Linked DNA regions of Homo sapiens. The protein of the gene in region 2 interacts with the protein of the main gene of each other region in a biochemical or structural test. Each region holds a gene or a part of one and is shown on either strand. Other genes may lie near its edges.

Evidence for each region. The genes of interacting proteins can lie anywhere in the genome.
Region 1: the proteins of SIPA1 (region 2) and SLCO1C1 interact in a test that uses a peptide from one of them, tested with the Homo sapiens proteins (one large-scale study listed by IntAct).

The regions. Positions count from the first base shown.
Region 1 is NC_000012.12:20,750,609-20,753,886, forward strand, and holds the end of SLCO1C1 (solute carrier organic anion transporter family member 1C1), read left to right. Parts: intron 1-66; coding exon 67-184; coding exon of another isoform or gene 185-287; intron 288-1,697; coding exon 1,698-1,920; 3' UTR 1,921-2,778; downstream 2,779-3,278. UniProt on the Homo sapiens protein: Mediates the Na(+)-independent high affinity transport of organic anions such as the thyroid hormones L-thyroxine (T4), L-thyroxine sulfate (T4S), and 3,3',5'-triiodo-L-thyronine (reverse T3, rT3) at the plasma membrane.
Region 2 is NC_000011.10:65,636,796-65,640,900, reverse strand, and holds the start of SIPA1 (signal-induced proliferation-associated protein 1), read right to left. Parts: upstream 2,801-4,105; 5' UTR 2,719-2,800; exon of another isoform or gene 71-2,718; 5' UTR 1-70. Other genes in the region: PCNX3 (pecanex-like protein 3), read right to left, coding at 3,923-4,105. UniProt on the Homo sapiens protein: GTPase activator for the nuclear Ras-related regulatory proteins Rap1 and Rap2 in vitro, converting them to the putatively inactive GDP-bound state. Affects cell cycle progression.

The sequences.
Region 1 (3,278 bases), on a different chromosome or scaffold from region 2:
GATAATCGTTCATAGACAAAAAGATGTGCATATGTTTTTAACAGCAATTATTTGTTTTTCTCACAGCAGGAATCCCAGCTCCAGTGTATTTTGGAGTTTTGATTGATACTTCATGCCTCAAATGGGGATTTAAAAGATGTGGAAGTAGAGGATCATGCAGATTATATGATTCAAATGTCTTCAGGTACCAAATCAAAAGCATTCCCGCATCTCATTGCTACAGCATCCCAGATTTACACAATGCCACTGACACTAACAAGTTTTCATGTCATTTCACTGCTTGTAAGGTAAAGAATAGTCTAATCAAAAAGTGTGATCTGTAGTCATAGAATAATTATATTATTATTTGATTAGATCTTTGATTTTGTCCCTATTCATTACCTTGACCCCCATTTTAAATGAGTAATCATTTTTAAAATATGACAAAAGTGTCCAGAATACAGTAGAATTTTGAAAGTTTATGCACACAAATGGGCAAGTATTTCCCTGAAATTCAGAGGCATTTAAATTTAGGTCACATTTTGGGTTTGATTTTTATTCTTTTTCAAACTGAGCCAAACTGTACCACTTACGTCAGATATAATACCCCTGGGCAAGAGTTGGATTTGGCTCTAAATCTGTCCGGCTTTTATTGCCAAACTAATGTTCAATTATTCTCGTACTTGAAATGCATGAAAGTAAAAGGTTTTCTCTGTGTGGGTGAGTGTATATGGGGGTTGGGTGGCGTGGCTTTTTCACTATGGTATCATTCAGTTCAGCTCATTAAACATTTAGTCCCTTATTGCTTAAAAAAATGCAAAAAGCATTGAAGCAATGGCTTAAAAGCAAGAAAGATTGTTTAAAAGACTTACAAACTGAGCATTTTCTGGAGAAATAAACTTGGTACTGAACCATCTAAGTTGGATGTGAATTGGGCACACCATTTTGAATAAATTTGTTTGAGTTAATAGGTTTTGATGCTATGCGTGAAATTTATTTTGGTCTTTGAAAGGGACCCAATCTGTGAGTATAATTTAGTATTTCCTCACATTTTTGCTAAGGCTGTATTAACTGTAATGTAGAGACAATGCAACTCAATCAGAGATTGAGAGTATGTTTTCAAGGTAACCAGAATGAGACATTCAACCTGTTCTTCCATACCTTAGCATCTTCTGACAAAGCATAGAACTATAGGTTTCTCATGAAATAAACTGATTTAAATCTCTGGTTTATTCTGAAATCATTCTGCTTTACTCAGAGCTCCAATTCCCATTAGCATTTCTTTATGCAAGTTTTCCAAAGAAATGAAGTTGGGAAAGGTCTGAGGATAGGGTAGCCACATAATTTATCATTCAAAACTGGGTACTTTTGAGTGTGAAAAGGAGCACTATTAAAATTATACTGGGCCAGCACTAGCATAAACTGGGGCTGTTCTAGGCAAACAGGGATATGGTTACCTGGTCTAAGGAAATAATTTACAGAGAGGATGAAACTGATTATGTAATTAGTAGTAACTAAAAATGATGGTGCTACTAAGACATTGCTTTATTTTATAAACTGCCTTCAACAGTCTGTCAGTATTTCATAAAACAGTCTTTTATATAAGCCACCAAATCTACATTCTTAAAGAAAACCATCAGTATGATATTATTACCTTTTAAATTTTCTTTCAAGTTGGTTGTTGCATTAATTATAACAGAGATTCTCTCTTCTTCTAGACATATATATCTGGGACTAACTGTGATACTGGGCACAGTGTCAATTCTCCTAAGCATTGCAGTACTTTTCATTTTAAAGAAAAATTATGTTTCAAAACACAGAAGTTTTATAACCAAGAGAGAAAGAACAATGGTGTCTACAAGATTCCAAAAGGAAAATTACACTACAAGTGATCATCTGCTACAACCCAACTACTGGCCAGGCAAGGAAACTCAACTTTAGAAACATGATGACTGGAAGTCATGTCTTCTAATTGGTTGACATTTTGCAAACAAATAAATTGTAATCAAAAGAGCTCTAAATTTGTAATTTCTTTCTCCTTTCAAAAAATGTCTACTTTGTTTTGGTCCTAGGCATTAGGTAATATAACTGATAATATACTGAAACATATAATGGAAGATGCAGATGATAAAACTAATTTTGAACTTTTTAATTTATATAAATTATTTTATATCACTTACTTATTTCACTTTATTTTGCTTTGTGCTCATTGATATATATTAGCTGTACTCCTAGAAGAACAATTGTCTCTATTGTCACACATGGTTATATTTAAAGTAATTTCTGAACTGTGTAATGTGTCTAGAGTAAGCAAATACTGCTAACAATTAACTCATACCTTGGGTTCCTTCAAGTATTACTCCTATAGTATTTTCTCCCATAGCTGTCTTCATCTGTGTATTTTAATAATGATCTTAGGATGGAGCAGAACATGGAGAGGAAGATTTCATTTTAAGCTCCTCCTTTTCTTTGAAATACAATAATTTATATAGAAATGTGTAGCAGCAAATTATATTGGGGATTAGAATTTTGAATTAATAGCTCTCCTACTATTAATTTACATGTGCTTTTTGTGTGGCGCTATAAGTGACTATGGTTGTAAAGTAATAAAATTGATGTTAACATGCCCAATTATTGTTCTTTTATGAATCCAATGAATTTAAAACTATTGTTAAATATAATACTGCCCCACTTTAATATATGTAAGCAACTTCCTACTTATACACGACGTGTTCCTAAAACATGTTTGAAAGGTGAATTTCTGAAAGTCTACAATAAATGTAGGTGTTACAACAGGAATGGAGAGTGATGGATGAATTGATGGGAAGTCTGAGTGTGGTACCTTTTGGTGCTCCACAGGCCCACATCACAGGGCCTAGGGACTCCTGCACAGGGAGTTCCCCCTGGGACAGCCTGCCAGATAGCTCTGTTTCTCTGCAACTGAAAAAGTCAAGCCAAGAGTTTCTTTTCTTTTTTTTTTAAGACATAGTCTCACTCTGTTGCCCAGGCTGGAGTGCAATGGCGCGATCTCGGCTCACTGCAAGCTCCGCCTCCCGCGTTCACGCCATTCTCCTGCCTCAGCCTCCTGAGTAGCTGGGACTATCAGCGCCCGCCACCATGCCCGGCTAATTTTTTGTATTTTTAGTAGAAACGGGGTTTCACCGTGTTAGCCAGGATGATCTTGATTTCCTGACCTCGTGATCCACCCGCCTCGGCCTCCCAAAGTGCTGAGATTACAGGTGTGAGCCACCACGCCCGGCCAAGAGTTTCTTCTTTCCTGACTTCCTGATGCTCTTCTG
Region 2 (4,105 bases):
GGGGGCTGGGCCGCATTGGCGGGCACGGGTGTTTGGTGCCCAGCCTGAGGTTGTGGCAGCAGTTCCTGCCCTGAAGGAGGAGGGGGCTGCTCAGAGGGGCCTGGGCAGAAAACAGGAACCCAGGCCCCCAGCCTGGTCCTCCACCACCCGTGTTGGCTTCCGGCCCCCTCCGAGACCATCAAAGCTGCTTCCGCTTTCCAGGCCACTTCCTTGTCTGCCTAGGGCTAAAGTTTCCAGCCCCCTCCCCAGCTTAGCTGGGCAAGGCTAGAGGCTGGGCTGTTGGGTCTTGGTCCTGAGGGTCCTGGAGCCTGGGCAGCCCTGGGACTGCCAGGGTCCCCCAGTCGCCACCCACACACCTTAGCTTTGGCCTGGGCCCAGAGTAAGGGTCCCACCAGGACCTAGCCCAACCGGACAGATGACTTGTATTGGCTGGGACGGGAAACCCAGGGGCCACTGGTGTCTGGGTCCTGCCCACTTAACAAAGGGAGGACGTCCTGTCCCCAGAGACCTTCCTCCTTGCCCCTCCCACTTCCTTCAGGGTCCCTGGAGAGCTGATCACCCAGAGAGGTCTGATCTCAGTGCCCTGGACCTCAAGGCCTCAATACCACAAGGACACATGGGTTCCCAGGGAGGCAGCGGCAGGGCAGCAGGAATGGCAAGAGGACTTCCTTCAGCACAGGAAGTAGCCCCAACTGTGGGCCCAGCCCTCTGCCAGGCCCCCACATCCTGAGGAAGGTGCTGGGGTCACAGCAGCTGTCATGGGACCCCAGTCACCCTGCCCTGAAGGACAGGCCAACTCACCTTCTTGCAGGCTACTGTGCCCAGGCTTGGGGGCAAGAGGAGTCACAATGACAGGGACCCATAGGGACCTCTGCCTACCTGGTCTCACTGATGCAGACAGGGAGGTCTGAACCCCATGTGACAGATGGTCAGATGAGGTCCAGAGGAGATGCTCTTGCCTGAAGCAATTCCGTGTCAGAGCTAGGATGTGAGCCTGGGTCTGCCCATCTCCAGGCCCTAAGCAGGGCTGCACCTGCCCACTGCTGTCTGTGTGCGTAGGTTTTGGGGGGTGGGTGTTGGGCTGAGGTTCAAGGTCTCACAGGATGCAAGATTGAGACACCCAAAGCCCCAGGGACCTGCTAAGTGCGGAAACGTGACGCCAGAGGCAGGTGCAAATGGTGGTGTGAGAACTTGAGGGAAGCCACACCCAGGCAAGCCCTGGATGGAGTAGGCAGTGAGGACAGGGAGCTGGGGAACCTCCACTGGGGGTACAGGCATCTAATGGTGGGTCTTCATGCAGCATCCAGCAACATCATGCGGGGCTGGGCCGGAGGGGGGTGGAGGAGGGGCTCCACACACCCTTCGTCTGGGGCCTCCAGAACCAAGCAAGAGTCGGCTCCCCAGCCCAGGTGCTTCTACCTTGATTTCTCCTGAATAAACTCCCATGCTGACCTTGAGCCTCTGTTTTCTCATCTCTAAAATGGGGTTAACTGGCCGGGTGCGGTGGCTGTGGCCTGTAATCCCAGCACTTTGGGAGGCCAAGGCGGGGGGATCACCTGAGGTCAGGAGTTCAAGACCAGCCTAGCTAACATGGTGAAACCCTGTCTCTACTAAAAACATAAAAATTAGCCGGGTGTGGTGGTGCGCACCTGTAGTCCCAGCCACTCAGGAGGCTGAGGCAGGAGAATCGCTTAAACCTGGGAGGCAGAGGTTGCAGTGAGCCGAGATCGCGCCACTGAACTCCAGCCTGCGGGACAGAGTGAGACTGTCTCCAAAAAAACAAAGAAAAAAATTGGGTTTAATTATTTCTGTCCCCTCCCAAGGCTGCTGAGAGACTGAGAAGAATGAGGTGAGTGTCGCTAGCTATGTGTGTGTGTGACGGGTGTAGCCCCTGGCTCCATGAGCCAAGCTCTGGGCACATTCAGCGCTCGGGCCTGGGCTATAGTGTGTGAAGGAGTAGGAGGGCATGAGGGAGGGGGTCTGTGCAAGCCCCGCTCCTTGTGGGCTGAGCTCTGCACGCTTGGAAGTGAGATCTGTGCATGTGTGCACCCAGCCTGTGCGCTGCCTCTTGCTGTGGCCCAGTGCCAGGCTCTGGCGCTGCCTTGAGGGGTGTTCTCGGGCTCTGCCCCCCACCCTGAAGCTTCACACAGGGTCCATTGAGGCTAGGACATTCCTCCGGGCCTGTGTCACTAGGGGTGGGGGGAAAGGGCCGGCCCCGCCCCCACAGATCCGGAAGGCCTGGCTGCCCCAGGAGGAGGAGCTGGCCACTTCCCAGCACATCTGGAGGTCATGACCCCATTTCGGCTGCCAGGGGGCGCGACAGATGTTTCCTCCCAGGCCAGGCCAGGGACTGGGGTGGAGGCCGCCTAAGAAGAAGAGGAGCCTCAGAATAAGGGGGAGCCCCGCACACACTTGCAGTGTTGAGGGGGAGGGGGTCACAGTGCCGCCACCAGGAGTCAGGAGCCGCCGCTTCCACTCACCGGCTGGCTGGCCAGGCTAAGCCGTCACACAGAGAGAGTAGGAACGGCTGGTCAGAGACAGGGGGCTGGACATATTGACTCGGGACTGAGCTGGAGCCCGGAGGGAAGTTGGGAGGGTGCTGGCGGCGAACGTGGCGAGGACCCCACTCCCATACACATCACCCGGGCCCACGGCTAGGCCACCTCTCCCCTGTCGGGCCCGACAGTAGTGCCTCCCGTCCCCTGCTCCCGCCAGTACCTCTGGGGCTCCCGCCCAGCCGCCGCCGCCCGCGCTGGGGTCCCGCTGCCGCTCTCCCGCTACCGCTCCCGGCGCCGGCTCCGCCTGGGGGCGGGGCCATGCTGGGAGGCGGGGCCATGCCGGGAGGCGGGGCCGGCCGGGAGCTGTCTGCGGCGGGAAGCGCAGCAGCGGGGATTCCAGGCCTGGCGGAGGTCAGCACCGAGCAGTGCTCATTCTAAGGCCATTTCCTCTCCTGAGAAACTTGTGCCTGCCTTCCAGACCAACCGGGAGGGCTAGCGGAGGCCACCTAGCGTCCAGCTCCCGGCCAGCAGGTGCTCAAGAGTCTGCCACTATTTTATGGAGCACTTGCTAAGCACTGGGCCCTGGGCAACCATTCCACTAGCGCGCTCTCATTTATTCTAAAAACACCTTAGATAGGTGTCATCTCTTTACGCCCTGGAGCAGCTGAGGTGCAGAGAAAGGCTTTGGCCAAGAACAAGCCTGATAAATGTAGGAGCCACCAGACCTGGAAGTCTGACCATATGGTGGGAAATGGCAGACAATACCCTTCAGATAAAGGCTTGAAAAGGGAGCAGCCATGCGGTGAAGAGGACCCGGTTCTACCTGAACCCCACCTTGGTCTGCCCTTGATCTCTACTAGACTTCAGCCCCACATCCTTCACCCCTCTGCGTGCTTGTCCATCCCAACTTAGCCGCCTGTACTATCATGTACCCATTCCCAGGTAGAAAAAGAAACTGCCAACCAAAATCAAAAATAGTGTTATTAATTCTGATGTCTCCGAAGCACAAAAAAAAAAAAAAAAAAGAAAAGAAAAAAAAGGAAAGAAAGAAACCACCCTTCCCACAATTCAGGCCCCAGGTCCAGGCCAAGGGGGCCACACCTGCAGGCAGTGCAGGCCCAGGGGCTGAGGTGGTCCTGGCCACAGGCTCCAAGTGGGACCAGCCCATGGTTTGGCTCTTAGGGCCTGGCTGGGAGGCTGACTGCCTCCATCTGGGGAGCCCAGGCCCTGGACTGGGGATGAGAGAGATCAGGGGTCAAGGTCAGAGGTCTGGGTCACTCAGTTTTGGTACTCTGGCCAAGGCAGCCAAAGGTCAGGGTTCAGACATGTAGGCCAAAGCCACTCAGTTCTGTGGTCCAGCAGAGAGGCAGCAGAGCAGGTCCGTTACTGAATCCTAGGAGGTGGTCCAGTGGGCGCCAGGTAGCTCAGTACTGGTGTTCCAGCAGGGGCTGGGCTGCCGGGCTCTCACGCTCCTCAATAGGGGCAGGCCAGTCGCCCAGGGCACCCATAGGTGTGCCACTCTCAGGGGCACTGCTGTCCAAGCAAGGAATGTCCTGGGAAGCTCTGGGGGGTGAGGCCTCAGTGCTGACATCGGGGCTGAGGCTGAG